Homo sapiens: one gene and its partners. The protein of the gene in region 1 purifies or fractionates together with the protein of each later gene. This does not show direct contact. Each region holds a gene or a part of one and is shown in the gene's direction. Other genes may lie near its edges. The genes, in order: OVOL2, SIPA1L1, TMOD3, IPO9, TRIP11, NRBF2 and TRA2A.

Evidence for each region.
Region 2: the proteins of OVOL2 (region 1) and SIPA1L1 purify together in Homo sapiens (affinity purification with mass spectrometry, with the first as the bait; one large-scale study listed by BioGRID). This does not show direct contact.
Region 3: the proteins of OVOL2 (region 1) and TMOD3 purify together in Homo sapiens (affinity purification with mass spectrometry, with the first as the bait; one large-scale study listed by BioGRID). This does not show direct contact.
Region 4: the proteins of OVOL2 (region 1) and IPO9 purify together in Homo sapiens (affinity purification with mass spectrometry, with the first as the bait; one large-scale study listed by BioGRID). This does not show direct contact.
Region 5: the proteins of OVOL2 (region 1) and TRIP11 purify together in Homo sapiens (affinity purification with mass spectrometry, with the first as the bait; one large-scale study listed by BioGRID). This does not show direct contact.
Region 6: the proteins of OVOL2 (region 1) and NRBF2 purify together in Homo sapiens (affinity purification with mass spectrometry, with the first as the bait; one large-scale study listed by BioGRID). This does not show direct contact.
Region 7: the proteins of OVOL2 (region 1) and TRA2A purify together in Homo sapiens (affinity purification with mass spectrometry, with the first as the bait; one large-scale study listed by BioGRID). This does not show direct contact.

The regions. Positions count from the first base shown.
Region 1 is NC_000020.11:18,055,117-18,059,143, reverse strand, and holds the start of OVOL2 (transcription factor Ovo-like 2), read left to right. Parts: upstream 1-1,227; 5' UTR 1,228-1,509; coding exon 1,510-1,609; intron 1,610-2,266; coding exon 2,267-2,487; intron 2,488-4,027. UniProt on the Homo sapiens protein: Zinc-finger transcription repressor factor. Plays a critical role in maintaining the identity of epithelial lineages by suppressing epithelial-to mesenchymal transition (EMT) mainly through the repression of ZEB1, an EMT inducer.
Region 2 is NC_000014.9:71,666,476-71,669,975, forward strand, and holds part of SIPA1L1 (signal-induced proliferation-associated 1-like protein 1), read left to right. Parts: intron 1-3,500.
Region 3 is NC_000015.10:51,892,153-51,895,652, forward strand, and holds part of TMOD3 (tropomodulin-3), read left to right. Parts: intron 1-1,662; coding exon 1,663-1,793; intron 1,794-3,500. UniProt on the Homo sapiens protein: Blocks the elongation and depolymerization of the actin filaments at the pointed end. The Tmod/TM complex contributes to the formation of the short actin protofilament, which in turn defines the geometry of the membrane skeleton.
Region 4 is NC_000001.11:201,856,657-201,860,156, forward strand, and holds part of IPO9 (importin-9), read left to right. Parts: intron 1-439; coding exon 440-538; intron 539-1,790; coding exon 1,791-1,897; intron 1,898-2,198; coding exon 2,199-2,338; intron 2,339-3,500. UniProt on the Homo sapiens protein: Nuclear transport receptor that mediates nuclear import of proteins, such as histones, proteasome and actin. Serves as receptor for nuclear localization signals (NLS) in cargo substrates.
Region 5 is NC_000014.9:92,005,560-92,009,059, reverse strand, and holds part of TRIP11 (thyroid receptor-interacting protein 11), read left to right. Parts: intron 1-1,207; coding exon 1,208-1,420; intron 1,421-2,611; coding exon 2,612-3,500.
Region 6 is NC_000010.11:63,143,328-63,146,827, forward strand, and holds part of NRBF2 (nuclear receptor-binding factor 2), read left to right. Parts: intron 1-2,881; coding exon 2,882-2,966; intron 2,967-3,500. UniProt on the Homo sapiens protein: May modulate transcriptional activation by target nuclear receptors. Can act as transcriptional activator (in vitro). Involved in starvation-induced autophagy probably by its association with PI3K complex I (PI3KC3-C1).
Region 7 is NC_000007.14:23,521,982-23,525,481, reverse strand, and holds part of TRA2A (transformer-2 protein homolog alpha), read left to right. Parts: intron 1-2,926; exon of another isoform or gene 2,927-3,500. UniProt on the Homo sapiens protein: Sequence-specific RNA-binding protein which participates in the control of pre-mRNA splicing.

The DNA.
Region 1 (4,027 bases):
AAAACCGCTGTGTTGATTCCCGGGCCCTGTAGGCTGGGAGCGCGGAGGGTCAGGTTACAGACAGGTGAGGCTGGCTGTTGGGTGAGCCTTGGGCTCCAGGGCATCCCTGACCAGACGCGCCCCCGCAGCACCCGGCAGCTGGCACACGTCTGACGACCTCCTGGAGGAGGGCGACCGCAGCGACACAAGAGGCTGTGCCGGTTGTCCTGGGCGCACCCGAACAAGGCCTTGGGAAGGGCAGCGCGCCCCGCAACGTGAGCACAACTGCTTTACAAACTTGGCATATTTTACCAACTCCCCCTCCTTCTCTCCCTCTCCCCTCCAGGCATAAAGGTTGATAGGAACAAACAGATATAATAATAAATGCAAAGCTTTCCTACCTCCCCGGTAGGGGCGGCTAGAAGATGTAGCCAATGTTCACTATGCTAGCTTCCTGGAAAGGTATTTCCCAGTCTCAGAATTTGGGGATCGGGTGGTTAGGAGAGGCAACGGTGGGAGTGGGCGAGGATTGGGGGCTTGTTTTGAAGCTGCATTTGCATAATATGCTCCTGGCTTTTGTTTCTATTGTGTGTTTACTTGGGGTGAGGGGGCTCTCGGGGGGTGCAACGTCTTGTGAGGAGAAGCTGCTTTGGCGGGGCAAGGCTTGTTTTTCTTAGATTGTATGATACTAGTCAGAAAAATAACGTGGTCTAAAGATGCCGAATTTTTAAATTTATTTTTACTGCTTATGGGGGGGGGGTGTTGTAGCTGATGGAAAGCTTAAGCCCCTAAGCCCCCACCCCCCATTATTAATAATCAGAATCCTTGGAAGTCTCCCGCCGCCTCCCCCTTCTGACCGCCCAGATTTCATCAAGCCCCAGGAAGGCTCCACAAGGTCCAGGGGAACTGAGCCATTTTCTGGCTCGTCGAAGACAAATCCACCGGGCGGGGGAGGGGGGCAACTCGTGGGAGGCCCCAACTCACCGGAGGGGTGCCCTGGGAGGCGAACCTGGGGTTTACCTCGAAGAGCTCGCCTCGAGGTGCAGGTGATGGGGGAATGGGGCGGGGGTTGATTAAAAAATGTTCTTCCTTTCTTAAAAAGAGGAGGGGGAAGAACAGACTTTAAATTCTTTTGCAAACATTCATGCCTAAGGAAGGGCTGGAACAGGCAGCCCCGGCCGCCGGAACCGGTCGGACAGGTAGCGAGCTTGTTGACACCGTTATGTTGCAGGGCGCATGCTCAGTCCCAAGTTTCCTGGTGCCTTTTCTATTCCACCTTATGAAACTTTTTCCCCGGCGTGGTCTCACTCGCGATTTAAGGCATAGGTGTCGCCGAGCCGGGAGGCTGGGAGTCGCCAGGCGTGCGGGGGAGAGGCCTGGGCCGCGCCGCGGCGGGGGGTGGAGGAAGAGGGCAGGCGAGGCGGGAAGGTGGGCTCTGGCCGCCGGGAGCCGGGGACGGAGCCGCCGCCGTTGCCCCTAGCGGGGAGCAGCCGGGAGGAGGGGGCCGCAGTCGGGAGAGGGGACCCCACCATGCCCAAAGTCTTCCTGGTGAAGAGGAGGAGCCTGGGGGTCTCGGTCCGCAGCTGGGATGAGCTCCCGGATGAGAAAAGGGCAGACACCTACATCCCAGGTGAGCGCGCGCGGGGGCCGGGCCTGGGCGCTGGGCTCCCGGGGTGGGGGAAGGGGTGGCGGGTCTTCTCTGCTCATCGGCAGGGGCGGGCTCCCCACCTCATCCCCCTCTTCCGGGGGGCACGCGGGGGTCTTCTAGGCGGGTTAGGGCAGGCAATGAGGGACTGGGATGCCCCAGACTCTAGGCGCCCCCTTCCCCGTAGTGGGAGCCTCTAATTGCCCGGCGGCGGGACCGTTGGCTGCAGCGCGGGCCAAGGTGGCCCAGGAAAGGGATTGAAAGCCAGCAGAGGCTACCCCCAATCTCACGTCCTCATGGGGGTGCACAAAGGCTCGCCAACCCTTCTGGGGCTAGCTGGGGAGAGGTCAGATCCGCCTCCCCCGCCCTGAGAGGAAACTTGGCGCGCGGGGTCCTCCGCCGCTCGTGGCCGCCCGGTTCCTCGTGGGCGCCTTGGCTGGGACCGGAAAGAGGCTCCGAGCACCCCAAGCTAGCTCTGTGGGCCGATTCGGGGCTTACTGGCCTCCCCCGCGACGTTGCCCACTTGGCGAGGTGCCCAGGTCCGGGGCGGGGCGGCGGCAGCACCGCCCGCAGGTCAAACTGCCGCGGGCGTGCGGGTTGACGCCGAGTGTGTGTGTCGGGGCGCGGCCCCTCCCTCCACAGTGGGCCTAGGCCGCCTGCTCCACGACCCCCCCGAGGACTGCCGCAGCGACGGCGGCAGCAGCAGCGGCAGCGGCAGCAGCAGCGCGGGGGAGCCTGGAGGAGCAGAGAGCAGCTCGTCCCCGCACGCCCCCGAGAGCGAAACCCCCGAGCCCGGCGACGCCGAGGGCCCCGATGGACACCTGGCGACCAAGCAGCGCCCGGTCGCCAGATCGAAAATCAAGGTACTGTGTCGACTCTGCCCCCGCCGCCACCTGCACCACGCCCTGGCGTCGGGCTCCCGAGGCCGGCGCCCCTCCCTGCCGCGCCCGCCTGCGCAACCCGGCACCCGCGCCCCGAGCGCGCCCGCCGCGCCGCTCCTGCACCTGCCCCTGGGCGGCGGCCAGGGCGCCTCGGCGCGTCCTCCCGCCCGCAGGGTAGCTGCTGCGCAGGGGCGGCCGGTTCCCGGAGTGGGCTCCGTCCTCCCGGTGGCCCCGCCTGATGCCGAGTGCTGCCTCTGGAACTGCCGAAAAGGCACAGGCATCACTGCCTTCCGCCAGCAGCCCGTTCTGTGCGCTAGGCCTGTAGAATAACCAAGGCCGTCGGAGTTCCTGAGGTTGGAAAGGAAGCCTCAGCGCTCTCAGAAATTCCACCCTCTGGGACGCAGTTCCTGGCGCCGCGATTCTGAGAGTTCACCCCCCATGCTTATGTTCTGGACCTGGGCGGCAGCTTGACACATAGTGGGCCTCTCCCAACATGAACCGGTTCCCAGTGTCTGTCAGACAGGAGGCTTGTGCACGGCACTTTAGATCTGTCATCTTTCCAATCTTGAATTAAATTGATGGGTAAAAGGGTTCAACTACAGATTTCTCGAGCGCCCCTACCCCAGTGGATTGGAGTGTTTCCTCCCATCTATGGTCGCGCCTCGGGGCCCCCTCGAACATTCTGGACGCCCACCTGCGCTTTCGGGCAGAACTTCCATGATGGTCTGCTCAAAGGTATCCGCTACCCACCAAGGTTTAGGAATCCCATTCCACTGACTCAGCCAGCTGGAGCTAGGAGGTGGTGGTTTATGATCACTTGGCCCCTCTTTCTAGCCTGGTGGGCCGCAGTGCTACACTGTGCACCCCCTAGACCCCCGGTGCAGGTGGTAATTCCAGGGCTCTCCGGTGCCCTCCTGCCACCCAGACCGGGAGTAGAGGGCGGTGGGGAGGGAGAGCCTGGGCTTTGCTGTGGATTGAGAAAGGACCCCTCATTTTCCTGGGAGAGGTCCCCTATGCACATTGCGTATTCCCAGGGTTTGACTCCGGGGTGGGCTGAGGCGCATTTGGTTTTGAACTGAGGTTTGAGGCTTCAGCTGGGATCCAAAGGAAAGACCTCTTTAAAGAAGAAGCTGCCGAAACCGTGCGGGCCGGCAGCTTAGCGGTAAGTGTGAGGGTGAGGTTCAAAGTCAGCTGGCCTGAGGCTCTTCCGGGCCAGGTGGGGTTAAGTGGGAGGGAAAAATTTGCCTGAGGCTGGTAGCTCTGCCCTTCGGGAGATTCTACAAAGTGCCCCACTTGCATATTTATCACCAGGCTGGAAGGACAATTGCAACGTTGTTTTGGGAGCCTCTGCAGCTAGTTTGCCCCTCTGTCCCCCAATTGCCCAGATTCCCCTGGAGAGAAAGTGACAGATTCTCATCCAGTCTCTTAACAAATATTTTAGGCAAACTCTTCTGCCTCAGGCACACAGGGCCGTTGGAATCCTGGATTAAAGGAAGACGTAAACCAATCTTATTTCCTAGAT
Region 2 (3,500 bases), on another chromosome or scaffold:
GTAAATTGGAACATTGACACACTATTTGATGAAATAAAAGAGTTGTTATTCATTTTAAAACTAAAATAGTAATAAGTAGTCATAACAAGGACCCTGATTGTTCAAAACAAATATTAAACTGTGGTCAGTAGGTATGTTTAGGAAGGTAGAAATATGTGTTACTCCTCTCAGAGAGGTTTCCATACCCGGTAATTAAAATGTAATAACTGTTGAAAGGAATCTGTATGATATAGTACAAAAAGCACTTGGAATTAGACCAAATTGTTAAACAGTGCAGTGGGAAGTTGCTTGACATCCACTTAAAATCCTATTAAGTAAAATGTCTAGCATAGGCAGGGAGGAAGCGTGATGCATGTCCATTAAATGTCTGTGTTCATCCTCTTTCCTCTCTGTAAAAAAAAAAAAAAAAAAAAAAGAATTTGCAAGCTTCAGCTGAGAAGAAGAAAAATCCAAGTAGGTCAAGTGATAGAAATTTCTTTCAGAAGGTCTATTTCAAGCCTCAATTAATCAGCATCCCTATTGTCCACTGCAGCTGACCTTTCTAAGACAAGAATCTGATTATGTCATTTATTGTGCTTAAAAGCATTTAGAGGAAAGTTCAGACTTGCAAGCATAGCTTACTGCATGGGGGCTTCAGGTTTGGCCTCCTGTCTCTCAGTCTCATCTACCAGTCTGCACCCCATGCCTACCTCACTCCTTTGGAGCTACTCACCACTCCCCAGAACAGCATGCTCTGCCCCTCCGCTCTGCACATGCTGCTCCTCTCACACATTCCCCTTTCCCTCCATCTGATGAATTCCTGCTTTTCTTTTTTCTGAGAAGGCTCCCTGGACCTCCCAGGACTAAAGTGCCTTTCCTAAGTGCTACCAGTAGCACCCTGTACTTCGCAAGTAGGAGACTCAAATCACTGGCTGTGGCTCCCACCAGACTTTGAGTTTCTGGAGGGCTGAGCCCGGGACATCTTCAGCCTTGATCCTCAGCAAAGGCAAAGTGCCTAGCACATAGTAGGTACTCAGTGACTGGTGGATCAATACTATTAGAAATCGAGAGAATGATTGGCACGTGTTTGATCTTTCCTGTCCTTTGCCCAGATCTGCTTTCTTGGAAGCTGCCCTGGCCAGTAATCTGATTCAGGCTCCAAGAAGAGGAAACTTCCTTCTCCCATTTGATGTTTTCTGTATCACCTTCCTTTTAAATTTTGGGCTGGGGATTGTTGATTATTGCTGTTTTTCCATTGTGCTTCCAAAGTTCAAATGTCTTATATTTCTCAATTTTTATCCACTAAACTGTTCAGAAGTCTTTGAAACAGGCCGGGCGTGTTGGCTCATGCCTGTAATCCCAGCAATTTGGAAGGCTGAGGCAGGCGGATCATGAAGTCAGGAGATCGAGACCATCCTGGCTAACACAGTGAAACCCTGTCTCTACTAAAAATACAAAAAATTAGCCAGGCGAGATGGCGGGCCCCTGTAGTTCCAGCTTCTGGGGAGGCTGAGGCAGGAGAATTGCTTGAACCCAGGAGGCAGAGGTTGCAGTGAGCCGAGATCGCGCCACTGCACTCCAGCCTGGGCAACAGAGTGAGACTCCGTCTCAAAAAAAAAAAAAGTCTTTGGAACATTTTCATGTGTCAGCTTGAAGTTGGCTTTGGGTATCAACACTTGTTATTTCATTCAAGCTCTTTGATGCCAACCAATGTTACATGGCCCATATCGAGTAGAAATAGCCTCATCATCTCTTAGGCCATGTGACCCATGTGAATGGTCCCTTTTAGCAGGCACCTCAGGAGTAGGAGGTTTGAAAGCACTTCCTCAGAGGGAGTAAGTGTGGGCTTGTCGTGGAGCACTCTCTTGGCTGTCCAGAAGCTTACATTCCAATCCTGGCTCTCTCTAACAAATCTGGGTAAATCCTTTTACTTCTCTGTATCTGTTCCTGGAGAAGTGAAGAATTTGTACCAGCTGCTCAACCGGAGGTTCATGAAGATGTCAAACCACAGAATACAAACAAGACACCTTCCTGGTCGCTCAGTGTACCCAAAGATTTTGGAGTGAGAAGATATTTTTATATGAAAATGAACACAAATATTTTTCAGTAGAATGTAAAATCGAGGTGAATTTTCAAATGAAACCCAAAGATTTTACTGAAAGAATTTGAGGAACATTGAGTTCTGTTAAGTTCCCTTCCTGTGATAACTTTCCATCACTGTTTTAGCCTCTAGCTCTGTCTGTCTGTCATCTAGATAACCCTGCTGAGTAGAACATTCCAGTCCTCAACAATGCTGGGTAAATAAAGCATGGCTATGATTTTAAAGCATGTATTATTTCCAAGAAGACACAGAATTGCCAACTAGGCTAATATACATACAGCCAAGCAGAGGCCCTTTGGAATCTGCTTTTAAAAATACCAAGAACCGTTTATAATTAATATATCTTAAGTAACTACATGCAGCAAACTGAGATTCTAGAAAGGCTTTTTTTCTAAATATTCTGTTTAGCTTAAACCAGGCCTTATTATCAAGAGTTCAGAATTTGTGGCATCTAAATTAATGAGCTTTTAACCTTGTAGAAACCTTGCCAGTTTGATTTATCCAAAACAAAATCATTTATTTGAAAAGAGCATTCCAGGGTATCATCTTCCTCATCTTCTGTAAGGATTCTATTTCTGACTATGCGAAGCTGATTTCAGTGCCTGTATCATTTACCTCCCTACCACAGTGAATCATTGAAAATTATATGGTAAGGATTCAGTTCTTTTCCTCACAGTTCATTATAGCTGTTTCTAATTATTGGTAGGTTTTCAGTGTATGTTTGTCTAAAGTTCTATCAATTAATAAATGGATCTGCAGAAAGCCAGTTAGTTTAAGGGGCAAGTAGATGGAGGGTGCTTAAAATCACACCCCCTGCTAAACATTTTGCTCTCCTTATTTAAAATAAAATCACAGATATTTTCTGAGAAGGAATAACAATTTGAGTGAAATAGCAGATGAGAAGTTGCCAATTTTAAAGTGAAAGATATTAAATATTTCTGGATTCTTACAGGATTCCACTTAGAAAAATCTAGCAAACCTGGATTTCAGCATCTTTTGCTTGACTTTAAGAGAAAAATAACACGATCAAATTAAAATTATACAGCTGTCAGCGTTCAAGTCAGGCAGTTCACAATAGACAAGAAAAATTGCCTTCCTAATACATATTGGTATAATTAAGCCATATGGAAGTCTCTGAATTCTCTCCTCCAGTTAGAAAATGGAGTGTTGGTTGCCACTGTTCTTTGTCATGAAGTGAACTAGGTAGTCTTTTAAAAATACACTTGTAAAACCAACAGATAGGCCATCCCATGGCATCTTCTGAGCATGTAGCTTTTCCATTCCACCAGAAATATAATTTGCCTCCTGAGGTTGCTGATTTTTATTTTTCTTATTTTCACAAGAAATAACTATTTCTTGAAAAACAAAGCTGAATATCTTAAAGCAAACCCTTCCTAAAGAAAAAAAAGTGAAACAGAGC
Region 3 (3,500 bases), on another chromosome or scaffold:
GAGTTTTGCTGCTAAAATCTAGAGGAAGGCAGGAAGGAAAAAAGCCAGATAGTAGTCCATTTTGAACCCGGTCAGTCTTTCCATGTCAATTGCTCTTACTCTTTCGTGCTCATTCATTAGTTTGTGAGCCTTTTGTGGTCTTTGACTTGAATGACCACAAAAAAGTAATGTTTTCCCCAGAAAATGTATCCATAAAAGTTTACCTATTATAGGTGTTCGTAGACCTCCACACACATGCATCAGAGCACAGTGATCTCTTTAAAGGGCTCAAGGATTTCAGGTCCTCTGTCGTTCACATCTGAAGCATCATATTCCTGTGTGGGTAGCTGAGGTAAAGATTAGGGAGTGAGAGTGAGGGAGGGCAGTAAATTTTGGAGCCTCTGTCTCAGTAGCTCTTCTGTGTACCTTTACCTCCTCTCCCTCTCTGCTCCTTATTCCTACCCTCTTTCCTATTCCTTCTTTCTCGCAGGAAGTTCTCCCCACTTTCCCACTGCAGAGTACTCCTCGTGGGAGGAAGAGGTAATGTGCCCTCCCATCACCTTATTCTTCTCATTTAGGCTATATTTCTTTAAGTCTGTGATTCTTACTGCCTTTATGCCAATTATCAGTCAAATTTCAGAGAAATGATGAGATGCTAGATTTTATCATACTATTATTTTATCTTAAATTTTGCCAAAAACAAATGGCATCATCAACTTGTGCTATCAAATATATTTGAGTGGTAAAAATATCTTGTAATATACTAAGACAATGAAAATATTCATTTTTGAAGACTGATACATGGCAAACAAATTAAATGTTGAATATGTTTGGTATTTATATTCAGTAAAATTTTATTTGGGTGCTTTAAATATGTGTCAAGGCCAAGCGCAGTGGCTCCTGCCTGTAATCCCAGCACTTTGGGAGGCCAAGGCAGGCAGAGCACTTGAGGCCAGGAGTTCAAGACCAACCTGGCCAACATGACGAAACCCATCTCTACTAAAAATACAAAAATTAGCCAGGCATGGTGACACACGCCTGTATTCCCAGCTACTTGGGAGGCTGAGGCAGGAGAGTTGCTTGAACGTGGGAGGAGGAGGTCGCAGTGAGCCAAGATCTTGCTACTGCACTCCAGCCTGGGTGGTAGAGTAAGACTCCATCTCAAAAAAAAAAAAAAAAAAAAAAAAAAAAATTAAATAAATAAATATGTGTCAACACATAAAGGATCTTTTCGGAATTGTGGGGATGGAACTTTTAAATCTGTCCCCTTGAATAAATATGCGTGTATGAGAGAGAGAGAAAGAGATGTTACCAAGTCAATTATCTGCATGCACTGTAATAGTATCAACTCCAGGCTGAGCACAGTGGCTCCTGCCTGTAATCCCAGCACTTTGGGAGGCTGAGGCGGGTTGATACGAGGTCAGGAGATAGAGACCATCCTGGCTAACATGGTGAAACCCCGTCTCTACTAAAAATACAAAAAATTAGCTGGGCGTGGTGGCAGGCACCTGTAGTCCCAGCTACTCAGGAGGCTGAGGCAGGAGAATGGCTTGAACCCGGGAGGCGGAGCTTGCAGTGAGCCGAGATCGTGCCACTGCACTCCGGCCTGGGCGAAAGTGCGAGACTCCGTCTCAAAAAAAAAAAAATGGTATCAAATCCTGCTCTTTTCATTTATCACTGCAGATGTGGTCAAAGGTGAAAAGATTCTTCCGGTATTTGATGAGCCACCAAATCCAACCAATGTAGAAGAGAGTTTGAAGAGAACTAAAGAAAACGATGCTCATCTTGTTGAAGTTAATTTGAATAATATAAAGGTAAGTGTGCTAATCAGAGTGGTTTTGTATTGCTTTGAGTTAGTTGAACCTAGGATGAGAGCTGGGCAGTTGATAAAATAGTCTAATTCTTTCTACTTTAACGTAAAGTTTTTGCTCTTACCAGTATGCTAACATAGGTTTCTTCATATTTTAGATATTGAAGTATTATGGTATAGTATTTTCTAACTTGCTTTTTGAAGAATTTATCATCTAAAAATGTAAACCCTACAAACTGTCAGAATAAATCTCAGGTTTTCTAAATACTGCCCACTTCTAAGAACATTTAGCCTCTTGGGTCTTGCTTTTTTAAAATTCGGTTCCTTAGCCAGGTATGGTGGTGCATGCCTGTAATCCCAGCTACTTGGGAGACTGAGGCTGGAGGATGGCTTGAGCCCAAAAGTTTGAGACCAGCCTGGGCAACATAGTGAGACCTGCCACTGTCCCATCTCAAAAAATAAAATAAAACCTGTTTTTTTGAGGTAAAATTTAAATATGGTAAAATTCTCCCTTTTAGTGTCCAGTTCTATGAATTTTGACAGGTGCATACAATTTTGTACAACCACCATTACACTCAAGATATAGAATATATCTGTCACCGCAAAAGTTCTCTCATACCCCTTTGTAGTCATTCTCTGACCCCCAGCTCTAGCCCCTGACAACCACTGACCTATTTTCTTTCCCTATTATTTTGCCTTCTCCAGAATGTCATATAAATTGAATCCTATAGTATGTAGCCTTTTGGGTCTGGCTTCTTAGCATAATACATTTGAGATTGATTCATGGTGAGTGTGTCAGATACGCTGCAGTTTGTTTATCTGTTCATCAGTTGGAAGACATATGGGTTCCTTCCAGTTTGGGATGTTTATTAATACAGCCACTATATACTTTTCACACACAGGTTTTTGTGTGAACATGTTTTAAATTCTCTTGAGTAAACACCTAGGAATAGGCTTTCTGGGATCTTATTTTGAGTTTTAAACAATGCAACTCTTCCTTGGAGTAAGGAAAGAAGAAATTAGGAGGACATGGGGTAATTAATTACCAAAAAGTAAACTCAAATTATCTAGATATTAGCCATTGTGTAATGGCTTCATTATAAATTCCTCATTTTAAAACTTGATTTTTTTGAAGTCGAGGACAAGTGGAGGAGAGCATCTGGAAATCTTGAGCCTAGGGAAGGAAGCTTCTGTGCTCCTCTAGGGAGTGATCCTTCCTGTGAGTAGAGGAAGGAAAGCCTCAGAGAAAGCTTATATTCATAGTTGATTACTAACTTTTTTTTTTTTTTTTTTGAGACAGAGTCTTGCTCTGTTGCCCAGGCTGGAGTGCAGTGGTGCGATCTTGGCTCACTGCAACCTCTGCCCTGCCCCAGGTTCAAGCAATTCTTGTGTCTCAGCCTCCTGAATACCTGGGATTACAGGCATCCACCACCACACCTGGCTAATTTTTGTATTTTTAGTAGAGATGGGGTTTCACCATGTTGGCCAGGCTGGTTTTGAACTCCTGACCTCAAGTGATTCGCCCACCTTGGCCTCCCAAACTGCTGGGATTACAGGTGTGAGCCACTGCGCCCGGCCTATTTTTATTTTTTTTAATTTGGTCCCTGTGTATCCCTTTCTCTAAATAAACAGTAATCATCTGAAAATAACCAGGCTAGGGGGAATTGAAGTCTCAAGATACTACTGAGAGAAACCAGCATCTTCAGTATTT
Region 4 (3,500 bases), on another chromosome or scaffold:
TTTGTTTCAGTTTTTGTTGTTGTTGTTGTTTTGTTTTGTTTGCTTTTTGGGACAGGGTCTTGCTGTTTTGCTCAGGCTGGAGTGCAGTGGTGTAGACAAAGCTCACGGCAGCCTTGACCTCCCAGGCTCAAGCCATCCTCCTGCCTCAGCCTCCCGAGTAGCTGAGACCACAGGCATATGCCACCATGCCCAGTTGACTTTTTTATTTTTTGTAGAGGTGGGGTCTCACTATGTTGCCCAGGCTGGTCTCAAACTCCTGGGCTCAAGCAGTCCTCCCACCTTGGCCTCCCAAAGTGTCAGGATTACAGTTGTGAGCCATTGCATCCAGCAAAAGGCTAGAGTTTTTTCAGGATAATAGGTTGAAATCTTCCTGTATCTGTTGATGAAAAGCTATGAATCAGATTGGCAGCATCACAAAGACATAACTTGATCTTTTCAGATTAAAGTATGGACAGCCAACCCCCAACAATTTGTAGAAGATGAAGATGATGATACATTCTCCTATACTGTTAGAATAGCAGCTCAAGACTTGTTGCTGGTAAGTTTACCTTGATACTTCAGCCACATAATTTCTATCAGTCACTTGAGCATTTCTTCTTTTTTGTAGACAACTAATCCAAGGTGAGCAGTGTTGTTGGGTGGCTTTATCTCAGACTTTATTGGGGATGCAAGAGAGTTTCTGAAATGAAATTCGAGACTCAGAAATTCTAAAATCATTGCTACTGGTTCTAACTTAAAACTAAATATTAGATAAAAGAATTGTGCAGACCATAGGGCCGGGGTGCGGGGGAGAATTGTATAGAGGATAAAGTGTTCCATGGAGTAAGGGTAGTTGAATCAAGAACATTTCAGTTTATGGCTGGGCGTGGTGACTCACACCTGTAATCCCAGCACTTGGGGAGGCCGAGGCGGGCAGATCACCTGAGGTCCAGAGTTCAAGACTAGCCTGACCAACATGGAGAAACCCCATCTCTACTAAACATACAAAATTAGCCGGGCGTGATGGCGCATGCCTGTAATCCCAGCTACTCGGGAGGCTGACGCAGGAGAATTGCTTGAACCCGGGAGGCGGAGGTTGTGGTGAGCCAAGATTACACCATTGCGCTCCAGCCTGGGCGACAAGAGTGAAACTTGGTCTCAAAAAAAAAAAAAAAAGCCATTTCAGTTTAATTCACTCTTCAACAAGAATCTATAGCACAGACAAAAGGTTGGCAAACCTAGCAAAACAAAACAGATTGCTGAAAGATTAACATCCAAATACCTGCTCATGTTTTCTTTGCCTCTTCTGACTAGAGCATAGAGTTGTCTCTAGGCTGAAATACTAAGAAGAAACTGCCACTTGCTTCTTGTTGGGTAGGAGATTTGTTCTCTGTTGATGAATCACTTCTCATTATCATTTAGTATTTCTAAGGAGCTGTGAAAGATTATATTCAGTTCCAATTAGTAGATTAGACTTATTTTTCTATCATCAGTCTCCAAGAGAGCAAATATTTGGTCCATTGTCATCCAAAGCTAGATCTATTATTGCTCACTTATGCTCTGCTGAATATAGCCAAAGGAGCCAACTGGTTAGCCTTACAATGCCTAGGCACTACCGAAATACAGATACTACTTTAATTTCATTAGAGACCCTGACCTACTGGTATAACATTTTTAATACAATTAGGGGTTTGCACATGTATGTGAAAGAGCTTGAACCAATCACTTCTAACAGTCATGACTGAAGCGGTTTACAATTAAAATGCATTTAATGGGCACAAACAGATTTATTAGCTCTTCTCTCTCTATAGGCTGTGGCCACAGATTTCCAGAATGAAAGTGCAGCAGCCCTGGCTGCTGCAGCCACTCGACATTTACAAGAAGCTGAGCAAACCAAAAACAGTGGCACTGAGCACTGGTAAGAGTGAGCCGCTAATTGGTTAAGATGCTTTTGTTTACCCCTTCTTAAAAAGTCTTGAAAGGATGGATTTATTTTTATCTTAATTTGAAAATCTGGTTTTAATTTAATAACAGATTTTAATCTCTTATTATTAAAATTTCACTCTTTTCAGCTATAGGTTAGAATGGAAGGGCTTAAGGTAAATGACTCTTTTGGAAGAGATTGTGCTGGAGTGCCCTTTTCTGAATCTTGTTTCCTCAAATATTTATCTCTTTTGGCAGTTTAGTATGTTTTACTAGGCTGTAGTATCCTTTCACAGGTGGAAGATCCATGAGGCATGCATGCTTGCCCTAGGCTCAGTGAAGGCCATCATCACTGACAGTGTGAAAAATGGCAGGATTCATTTTGACATGCATGGGTTCCTGACCAATGTCATCCTTGCAGACCTCAACCTCTCAGGTATGTTTCAGCACGTGCCAGGATTCTAGAAACTCTTTAAACCTGTTGTGGGGTTGGGGGAGGGATCAGCATTAGGAGATATACCTGATGTAAGTGACAAGTTAATGGGTGCAGCACACCAACATGGCACATGTATACATATGTAACCTGCACATTGTGTACATGTACCCTAGAACTCAAAGTATAATATATATATATATATATATATATATAAAGGAAACTCTTTAAACCTGTCATTAACTTGGTTATATTGTTCACTTAGACTGGTAGGCCAGATATTCTTGTGTCCTTTGAGTGAAAATTGTTTGCACCCTACAGCTTGAACTCATCCGAACCTCTAAAACAGCCCAGAGGCCGATTCAAGCTTCACCTAATGACAATCTAATATTGCCTAGTTCATAATTCTTCCGTGATGTTTATGTTTCTTCCCAAATTGGCGTTCCCATTCATGGTTGTTTTTGGCATTTGAATGGAATCCAAATCTGGTTGCTGTACCTTGAGAATTATCGAGTACTGCTCCCATTGTTAAGTCCAGAATGCCCTCAGGCATTCTGTATCAGGCACATTCTTCCTGTTTGTTTCCTGTCATTTTTCTCAAACTTTATTTTTGGCCAATATCCAAATAATTAAAATGTTCCATTCTCATACCCATGTTAGCCATCTGTCTTAAAAAGAAAAAAGTAGGCCAGGCGCGATGGCTCATGCCTCTAATCCCAGCACTTTGGGAGGCTAAGGCAGGTGACTCACCTGAGGTCAGGAGTTCAAGACCAGCCTGGCCAACTTGGCGAAACCCCATCTCTACTAAAAATATAAAAATTAGCTGGGTGTGGTAGCAGGAGCCTGTAGTCCCAGCTACTCAAGAGGCTGAGGCAGGAGAATCACTTGAACCAGGAGGCAGAGGTTGCAGAGAACTGAGATCACACCACTGTATTCCACCTTGGGTGACAGAGCGAGACTTGGTTTAAAAAAAAAAAAAAGGTAGCCCTTTACTATTAGACCGATTTCTTCCGCAATACAGAGCAGTAGCTGAGAATCATTGTTGTCTATGTGGCATTTTCTGCTACTTGCTTCTGCCATGCCATGCCTTTTCTCATCCTTGGAGCCAGATCACCATCCGAAAACACTGCCTTTGCTTTCTCTCTCAGTACTTAAATCATGGAAC
Region 5 (3,500 bases), on another chromosome or scaffold:
AATAAATTTTTGAATTAGAAGGAAATAAGAATTGTGATACAGATACTCTAGTATAGCTTTTATCGGATCTCTGTTTTTTCAACCAACTCTCCATAGCAATGTTGAGTTTCTTTTATAAGGTTTATATTAGGCTGTTTCTTTGAAGGAATTTGAGATTCTTATTTTTTTAATTTTATTTTTTAGAGAGAGAGAGTCTTGCTGTATTGCCCAGGTTAGAGTGCTGTGGCTGATCATGGCATGATCATAGTGCACTACAGCCTTGAACTCCTTGGCTCAAGTAATCCTTCTGCCTCAGCCACCTAAGTAGCCTCCTGGGACTATAGATAAATGCCATCATGCCTGGTTCAATACTCTATTTAAAGTAGATTCCATATGGGTTTGATTTTTAAAAATCTGTCAATGAAAGAAGGCTTTAATATATAGTTTATTACAAACATCATAACTAGAGACTGAAATAATGTTGAAGCATAGAGAACTGTCCCACTTCTGAGATTTTGGAGAAAGCATTAAATACCAGGTAGTAGACTATAAAATGTATATATACTATCTTTAGGAATGTCAGGTGTGACAGAGGGGAACCTAGTCTGGTTAAAAGGTAAAGGAAGGAAGGAGGATTCTTTCTAGGGTCAAGAAAAAGTTCCATGTTCTAACAGAAGCAAAAGTAATAAGGGAAATTCCTTTAGTAAGAGAAAAGAAACCTTTTATTTTCTAATTAGAGAGGCTAAACATTTGGGTGAAGGAGTGTTGATTTTTTATATTTTTATTTAGTCTGAGGCTGTTGATGACTGGATGTTAGAGAATGGAAGTGAGGAAGGCAGAAAGACTTGCGGACATTTTGGAAAGTATGTATGTATGGTAGGTGGGGCCAGGGGATGGATAAAGGGTAGCCACGGTGGAGCAGGATAGGAGAGGCTCTCAAATGGGAACGTTTTTTATAAAGAAGAACTTGGTGCTAGAGGACAAACTTACAGTCGCTGCATCTGTCTAGGGTTATAGAAATGTTTTGCTTGAAGCTACAAGTAAAATTGCACATGAATGAAGGATGTGGTTTGTTGAATTTCACATACAATTATTGAGGTATTGTTCAATATTATTTCCAATATAGAGCACTTAAATAGAATCCCAAGTTTTGCTTCTATGTATGTTTTTAATCTTTTGGTGTCTCCAATTGAAAGTATGTGTTGCTTTTTTCCTTTTATCATTTCAGGAAGAACTTCAGATGTCACTTTTAAAATTGAACAATGAATATGAAGTAATTAAAAGTACAGCTACAAGAGACATAAGTTTGGATTCAGAATTACATGACTTAAGACTTAATTTGGAGGCAAAGGAACAAGAACTCAATCAGAGTATTAGTGAAAAGGAAACACTGATAGCTGAGATAGAAGAATTGGACAGACAGAATCAAGAAGCTACAAAGGTAACACTGTATTAAATACAGTAAGGCAGCACATTCTACTAAGTAAACTAAACACAGAAATGGTGGGTGTGATTTAATTAATATTTTAGTTCATAGAGATTGACAAACCTTTTTGGTAAAGTGCTAGATAGTAAATATCATTGGCCTTGTAGGCCATATTGTCTCAGTCTACTCAACTCTGTTGTTGTGATACCAACAAATGAGTGTGACCATGTTTCAACAAAATTTTATTTACAAAACAGGCAGCATCCCTGAGTTGGCCAATGGCTATAGTTCGTTGACTCTTACTCTAGTGTAGAGTTAAAAATAAACAACATGCCGGGCGCAGTGGCTCATGCCTGTCATCCTAGCACTTTGGGAGGCAGAGACGGGTGGATCACGAGGTCAGGAGTTCAAGACCAGCCTGGTCAAGATGGTGAAACCCCGTCTCTACTAAAAATACAAAAAATTAGCCGGCCGTGGTGGCAGGTGCCTGTAATCCCAGCTACTCGGGAGGCTGAGGCAGAGAATTGCTTGAACCCAGGAGGCAGAGGTTACAGTGAGCCGAGATCATGCCACTGCACTCCAGCCTGGGCAACAGAGCGACTCTGTCTCAAAAAAAAAAAAAATACTATTTACCATCTTTGGTTTTAAATTCTTATCCCTAAAATGCTTTAAGAAATGACAAGATGGGGCCAGGCACAGTGGCTCATGCCTGTAATCCCAACACTTTGGGAGGCTGAGGCAGGCAGATCACCCGAGGTTGGAAGTTTGAGACCAGCCTGACCAACATGGAGAAACCCCATCTCTACTAAAAATACAAAATTAGCCGGGTGTGGTGGCGCATGCCTGTAATCCCAGCTACTCGGGAGGTTGAGGCAGGAGAATTGCTTGAACCTGGGAGGTTCAAGAGGTGGAGGCGGAGGTTGCGGTGAGCCGAGATTGCGCCGAGCCGAGATTGTGCCATTGCACTCCAGCCTGGGCAACAAGAGCGAAACTCCGTCTCAAAAAACAAAAAAGACAAGATGGGTTTGCTGTAAAATAATAATAAGTAATTTTGTAGTGGGTGTTTTTGATAGAAAAACAATGTTTTTAAGAAGGATTAGAAATATTTGAGGATTATTTTCTATTATGTATGAGATTTTATAAAATTTTCTTTGAGTACTAAAATGAGAACATGTTGTAAAGTCACCATGCAAATTTTTCTTTCAGCACATGATTTTGATAAAAGATCAGCTATCAAAACAACAAAATGAAGGAGATAGCATCATCAGTAAACTGAAACAAGATCTAAATGATGAAAAAAAGAGAGTTCATCAACTTGAAGATGATAAAATGGACATTACTAAAGAGTTAGATGTACAGAAAGAAAAGCTAATTCAAAGTGAAGTGGCCCTAAATGATTTACATTTAACCAAGCAGAAACTTGAGGACAAAGTAGAAAATTTAGTAGATCAGCTAAATAAATCACAAGAAAGTAATGTAAGCATCCAGAAGGAGAATTTAGAACTTAAGGAGCATATTAGACAAAATGAGGAGGAGCTTTCTAGAATAAGGAATGAGTTAATGCAGTCTCTAAATCAAGACTCTAATAGTAATTTTAAGGATACCTTACTTAAAGAAAGAGAAGCTGAAGTTAGAAACTTAAAGCAAAATCTTTCAGAATTAGAACAGCTCAATGAAAATTTAAAGAAAGTTGCTTTTGATGTCAAAATGGAAAATGAAAAGTTAGTTTTAGCATGTGAAGATGTGAGGCATCAGTTAGAAGAATGTCTTGCTGGTAACAATCAGCTTTCTCTGGAAAAAAACACTATTGTGGAGACTCTAAAAATGGAAAAAGGAGAGATAGAGGCAGAATTGTGTTGGGCTAAAAAGAGGCTGTTGGAAGAAGCAAACAAGTATGAGAAAACCATTGAAGAACTGTCAAATGCACGTAATTTGAATACCTCTGCCTTACAGCTGGAACATGAGCATTTAATTAAACTCAATCAAAAGAAAGACATGGAAATAGCAGAACTCAAAAAGAATATTGAACAAATGGATACTGACCATAAAGAAACTAAGGACGTTTTGTCATCTAGTTTAGAAGAGCAGAAGCAGT
Region 6 (3,500 bases), on another chromosome or scaffold:
TGTAAACATGCCCAGAATATTTATAATCTCAGTTGCAAACGTGATTCTGTGAAGTACTTTTATGCAGCATCAAAGGGACATGTCTTTAAAAAGCATCCAAGACAAATCATTTTTCAGCTAACTGACAGAACAGATTTGTTTTTTTTTTGGGACCGAGTCTCACTGTGTTGCCCAGGCTGAAGTGTAATGGTGCGATCTCGGCTCACTGCAACCTCTGCCTCCCGGGTTGAAGCGGCGATTCTCTTGCTTCAGCCTCCCGAGTAGCTGGGATTACAGGCACCCACCATCCTGCTGGGCTAATTTTTGTAGAGACGGGGTTTCACCATGTTAGCCAGACTGGTCTCAAACTCCTGACCTCAGATGATCCACCCGCCTTGGCCTCCGCAAGTGTTGGGATCACAGGCATGAGCCACCATGCCCGATTTTTTTTTTTTTTTTTTTTTGAGACAAGATCTCACTCTGTTGCCCGGACTGGAGTGCAGTGGTGCGATCACAGGTCACTGCAGCCTCCATTACCCAGGCTCAAGTGATTGTCCTACCTCAGCCTCCTCAGTAGCTGGGACTACTACTACAGGTGCGAGCGCCACACCCGGCTAATTTTTGTATTTTTTGTAGAGATGGGTTTTCACCATATTGCCCAGGCTTGTCTCAAACTCTTGAGCTCGAGTGATCTGCCTGCTTTGGCCTCCTAAAGTGCTGGGATTATAGGCATGAGCCACAGCACCCAGCCACTTTTTACCTTTTTTAAGTGATGTAAAAAACACGTGAAGTTTACCTTCTTAATTATTTTTAAGTGTACAGTTTAGTAGTGTTAAGTATATTCGCATGGTTGTGCAACAAATGTCCAGAATTTTTTCATCTTGCAAAACTGAAACTATGCCGTTTGAATACCTACTCCCCATTTCCCCCTCCCCTGTTCAATGATGAGTTGTTCCACCATTCAACTTTCCTGTTTTTAAGAATTTGACTACTTTAGATACCCAATAAGTCGATTTGTATAGTATTTGTCCTTTTATGACTGGCTTATTTTATTCAGTCTAATGTCCTCACAGTTCATCCATGTTGTAGTATGTGTCAGAATTATCTTCCCTTTTTTTTTTTTTTTGAGACACAGTCTCGCTCTGTCACCCAGGCTGGAGTGGAGTGGCGCGATCTCGGCTCACTGCAAGCTCTGCCTTCCGGGTTCACGCTATTCTCCTGCCTCAGCCTCCTGAGTAGCTGGGACAACAGGTGCCCCCCACCACGCCTGGCTAATTTTTTTTGTATTTTTAGTAGAGACGGGGTTTCACCGTGTTAGCCAAGATGGTCTCGATCTCCTGACCTTGTGATTTGCCTGCCTCGGCCTCCAAAAGTGCTAGGATTACAGGCGTGAGCCACCGCGCCCGGCCAGAATTACCTTACTTTTAAAGACAGTACCTTTCCATTGTGTGTGTATACTGCATTTATCCATCTATCTGTTGATGGACATCTGGATTGCTTTCACCTTTTGGCTGTTGTGAATAATGCTGTTATGAATATGGGTGTACAATGCTTTTTGCTTTTTTGTGAAGCTGTGAAGCTTTGCTAAATCGTGTGTGTTTGTTACTGAGGAAAATCGTTACATGAGGTAGAAAACTTTAGCTGATTATCTCTGCCTTTCTCCTTGCTAGTTAAATGTATAATCTTATGTAAGTTACACGACCTCCCCATCAGTCTTTTGGGCCTCCTTATGTAAGAGAGGAAAACACATTAACAAAGTCGTAGTTAAAGCAGCTGAAATAATGTATATTAAAGCTTTTTTTTTTTTTTTTTTTTTTTGAGATGGAGTTTCACTGTTTTCACCCAGGCTGGAGAGCAATGGCATGATCTTGCCTCATTGCAACCTCTGCCTCCCAGGTTCAAGCAGTTCTCCTGCCTCAGCCTCCTGAGTAGCTGGGATTACAGGCGCCCGCAGAGACGGTGTTTCACCCTGTTAGCCAGGATGGTCTCGATCTCCTGACCTCATGATCTGCCCGCCTCGGCCTCCCAAAGTGTTGGGATTACAGGCGTGAGCCACTGCGCCCAGCTAATTTTTGTATTTCTAGTAGAGATGGGGTTTCACCATGTTGGCCAGGCTGGTCTTGAACTCCTGACCTCAGATGATCCGCCTGCCTCAGCCTCCCAAAGTGCTGGGATTACAGCCATGAGCCACTGTGCCTGGACTTAAAGCTCTTTTGAAATTATTAAAGTGTAAGGAGGCCAGTGACTGCTTATTTAATAAGTTTTCCTTCAATTACATTATTTGCTGTTAGAACTTCTGATTTTTTTGACTTTGTTCTTTTGATGAGATATCTTTAAAACAATCTTTGTAATATTAGATGTTGGTATCATGAATTCATCAACTGCAATGTCCAAATTTTTTATTTTAAAAACAAATAGTAACTTTAATGTTGAAAGAATGAGATGATAGAAGAGAAGCTTGGATTTTACTACATGATGAGTGATTTCCTGATTATAGTTTTTAGACTATACAGATTAGTGAAAGTATCTACAAAATAGCTCTTGTTTTGAAAGGAGCTTGTTAAAAATCAAGAAAATAGACATTTTGAATAACAATCTATGATTGTAACTCTTGGTTTATCTCCAAAGAGTGGAAGAATGTGAGTCACTGAAGGAGTTAAGTGCCTGGTGTTAACCTTGAGAGGGCTTATGGTAGAAGTGAAAGAAGTTGCCAGTTCCTTTCAGATGCTGCAGTTCTAGGCTCTACCCATTACATTTCCCCAGCTACAGATAGAGCTGTAATAGTGATTTGATATGTGGCAACAAAACAGTATTATTTATCTTCTTAAAAGGTAGTTGCTTTTTGAAAGAAATCATGTTTTATTTTATGATCCAGAGGAACTTAGGGATGTTTGTCTTCTAGGCTCATCAACAGAGCAGACGAGCAGACCGTTTATTAGCTGCAGGCAAATACGAAGAGGCTATTTCTTGTCACAAAAAGGCTGCAGGTGAGTATTCTTATTAAGTACTCAGTGTAAAACTGAAGAGCAGAAAGTCACAATAGTAATAATGTGTGTTGCTTTTCATATGCAAGACTGATACTGCTGACCCACCAGAATATCAGCTTTGATTATTTTTCAAGTAAGTGTGTTGGATTTCCCAGCTCCTGCTAATCCAATCTTCTTTCTAAATCATGAAGATGGCATAAATGTGGTAAACAGTTCCTGGATACAGCTCTCTGAGCCCAAAGATCCCTAAAAACAGGAGCTGATTGTAACAAGTCTGCCATTTTATCTTAGTTATTATAAAAAGGAGTTTGGGTTTCAAATAGTTGGCCATTTCAGGTTCTAAAAATAGTAATTCAATTCAATTCCAACCAATTCATTTTCACTGAGCTTCTGTTTTCTAACATGCTGATAATGCAAAACTTACTATAAGACTTTTGTTACCTAAAATGTGGGAGATTTTTCCTGTGGTCTTTTTTTTAGCTTCCCTTCTGAATATCTCATCTCTACATGCATGCCTGTAGTAACATGCTGATG
Region 7 (3,500 bases), on another chromosome or scaffold:
GTTGAGTTATTAATCTGCCCATTTAAACCGGGCAGTGTATTTTTAATGGTTATTGGATGCAGGAGCCAGATTACTGAGGAAATGGTAGGATTCCTTGACTGGACAGCTTTAAGAACAAGTAGTCTAGTGAAACAGGGCAGATACCACCCATTCCCAGCAATCTTTTTTGTTTGCAATTTCAATTCATTTTCCAAATTGTGGATAGTTTTATGAATTTCTTTGAGAAAAAGTTGAAATTATTTCATAATGAAGACGAGTCAGAGAGAAAAGGATTAGCCTAGCATTTGTCCTCTTTATATAAAGGACTTCTTATAGCCTGATTCCTAATGCAGAGTTCAGTGAAAGTGACATTTATTTGGTAACAGCTTTTGAGAAATGTTACTTTATTTCTAAATAATTATATACTTGGCAGTTTATTCTTCCAGTTAAGTTTACTAATAGTTACTGATTTGTTAATATAAGTTTGTAAGTTGTTTTTGAAAGTTAAAATGAAGCTGGGTGTGGTGGCTCACACCTGTAATCCCAGCGCTTTGGGAGGCCAAGGCGGGCAGATCAAGGAGTCAGGAGATGGAGACCAGCCTGGCCAACATAGGGAAACCCTATCTCTACTAAAAACACAAAAATTAGCTGGGTGTGATGGCGTGCACCTGTAAGCTGAGCTACTCAGGAGGCTAAGGCAGGAGAATCGCTTGAATCCGGGAGGCGGAGGTTGCAGTGAGCTGAGATCAGGTGCCACTGTACTCCAGCCTGAGCTACAGAGCAAGACTCCATCTCAAAAAAAAAAAAAATAGTTAAAATCATAGTGACAACTTTGTAGCTAGGAGTTAGAGACAGCTAAGAGGACTGTTTTTAGCTTAGATGTTTCCATGAAGAAATTTGTGCAGACTGAGATTTCCTCTGAGATAAAAAGAAAGAAGGGCAGACAACAAAGGAGGTTAGGTATTTGTGACACCTTTGATAATAAAAAGCAAAGCTTCTTTTAAAATAAATCTGATGTTGGCCGGGCGCGGTGGCTCACACCTGTAATCCCAGCACTTTGGGAGGCTGAGGCGGGCAGATCACTAGAGGTCAGGAGTTTGAGACCAGCCTGGCCAACATGGGAAAACCCCATCTCTATTAAAAATACAAAAATTAGCCAGGCAAGGTGGTGCATGCCTGTAATCCCAGCTGCTCAGGAGGCTGAGGCAGGAGAATCACTTGAACCCAGGAGGTGGAGGTTGCAGTGAGCCTAGATCGCACCATTACACTCCAGCCTGGGTGACAGAATGAGACTCCTCCTTCTTAAAATAAATAAGCTAACATCTCTTAAAAAGACATTCTATCATACCATAATGCTTTGTTGCTACTCCAAAACTGGGATTTAAAATTGGAATTTTAAGATGTTACTGAATTATCTTGTTTACTTTAATAAAAGGTTTTTATTTCCATCCTAGTAAAATTAAAGAATTGTAGTGTTTTACAGAGCAAAGCCTCCTGTGTATGTTTGAGAAGGACTGTAGCAGCGTTCGTAGATAATAATCCAGCTATTGCTATTCAACAGTAGCATAAATGAATGTTATGTCACAGGGTCTGTTTTGTGGAAAGGAAAGCCAAAAGAGAAGAGGGGAAGATACTCTTATGAGTTTGATTAATGAACCAGTCTGTGAAACTTAAATTACAAGCAAATTAGCCATGCCTTTTTTTATAAGATACTGAATATGCTGCTTTCATAGTTTCAGTGAATGAAAAAGCCCAGATTGCTATGCCTGCTCCAGACATCTGTTGAGTGGTTTAGAGTATCTGAGATGCAGTGAAAGACTTGTAGGTAGCTAAATGGGAAAGGTTGGTATTGAGCTGAAAGGTAGCTGTGTATTTCAGTTTTGTTTTTATCTGAAAGAAAATGACCAGGTGGCATTTGTACAGTTCTTGATAAATAAGTCTTGACATTAAACTTGAAGCAAAGGAAAAGTTTTCAGAAAGCTGTTTGAGTTGTGTGATAGTCTTAAGGCATAAATAAATTGGTGTGAAATTACTTCTGTGAAATTGAGATAATTATTTACACTGATAATCAAGGCTTAACTGGACACAGAAACCAAGCTGTCCATCCTGTTTTGATCATAAGTGCCTCATATCTGTGCAGTTAAAAAAAACAAGCTTATGATCAGTAAGTTATTTTATTTGGAATGCTTTGATTTACACCCAATTTTTTCAGAAACCCATCACTTTTTGGATATAGAATATAGTCACTGAAGGGAGTACCAGTATACATAAATGCATAAATTATGTAAAAACTGAACATAATTCTAAAGAGATGGAATCAAAGATAAAGACTATGATATAAATTTTGTACCTTCTTGCACATTGTGGTATGTCGTGGATAATAGAGCATTTTAAAGTGATCTGGTTGCAAAAATGTGTATATCAGGAATTAATAAGCTAATGGGGAAATTTTAAGAATTTCATGCTTATTAGTTTTTTCGGTATGTTTGTCTTCAGAACATATTTTAAGTCAGAATGAGCAAAGATAGTAGTCAAAGTTGGGAGAAGGTGTAATTTTACTGATTTTTTTCTTTTTGACTTATTTGAACCTTGACATGTGCTATGGGTGAGTTTAGATAGGTGTGTACAAATATTTCAGCCTGGGATGCCTTGCTCTAACTATATCTTGATTTCTTAGCATGACTTAGTGAAAGCTTATTTTTAAGAATCTTCAGATTATAAAGTAGTGAAAATTTAACACTTAGGTGGGGGGAAATTATAGTTGTTAGATTTATATTTGAATTATATTAAAATTGCTCACATTTTAGGAACTAGAATGAAACATGGGAGGAGGGTGAAGAGTATGGTTTAAAAAGCATTTAGAGAAATTTAGTAAATTCTCTTTGTTAGAAACTAGAGTTTTGAACAATTTTAAAGACTATAAAATTGTTTTTTTTTTTTTTTTTTAAATAAACTAGTTACTTGCACTTTACCTGCTGGCTTTTCCATTTGGTAGATAACATTCTGAACTCCAGCAGAGTTTTATAATCCCCACGTGCTTAAATATACTAAATGTTCTTTTTCCATTAAGGTTAATGTTCGTGAAGAAATTGAAGAGTTTTTTCCAAGAATGTGGAAGATAAATCAAGATAAAAGAAGGCTAATGAAAAGTATTAAAGATCAGAAAATTAAAATTGAATGGGGGAAAAAATTGAACAGAAGATTGGTCAGATAGAAGCACTTGAATATTTTTTTAAGGCTATTTTGAATTGTTTGAATTGGGGAAGAATACACGAAGTATGAAAAATGAAAAACTCAATGAAGAATGAAGAGAAGTAGAAAGCAAGAGTGAAGTAGAATTAAAAGAATCTGGAAGAATGAATGGGTCCTAGGTTAAGTAAATGTATGGTTTATGTTCCAGTGTCTGTATGATCAAGTTGTAGATGAATTTGCATGATTACTTAGTTAATAGAGAATTGGTGATCTGGTTCAAGTAGGGAATTATTGAGGACAGTTAGCAGTATTAACAGTGGGTTATTATT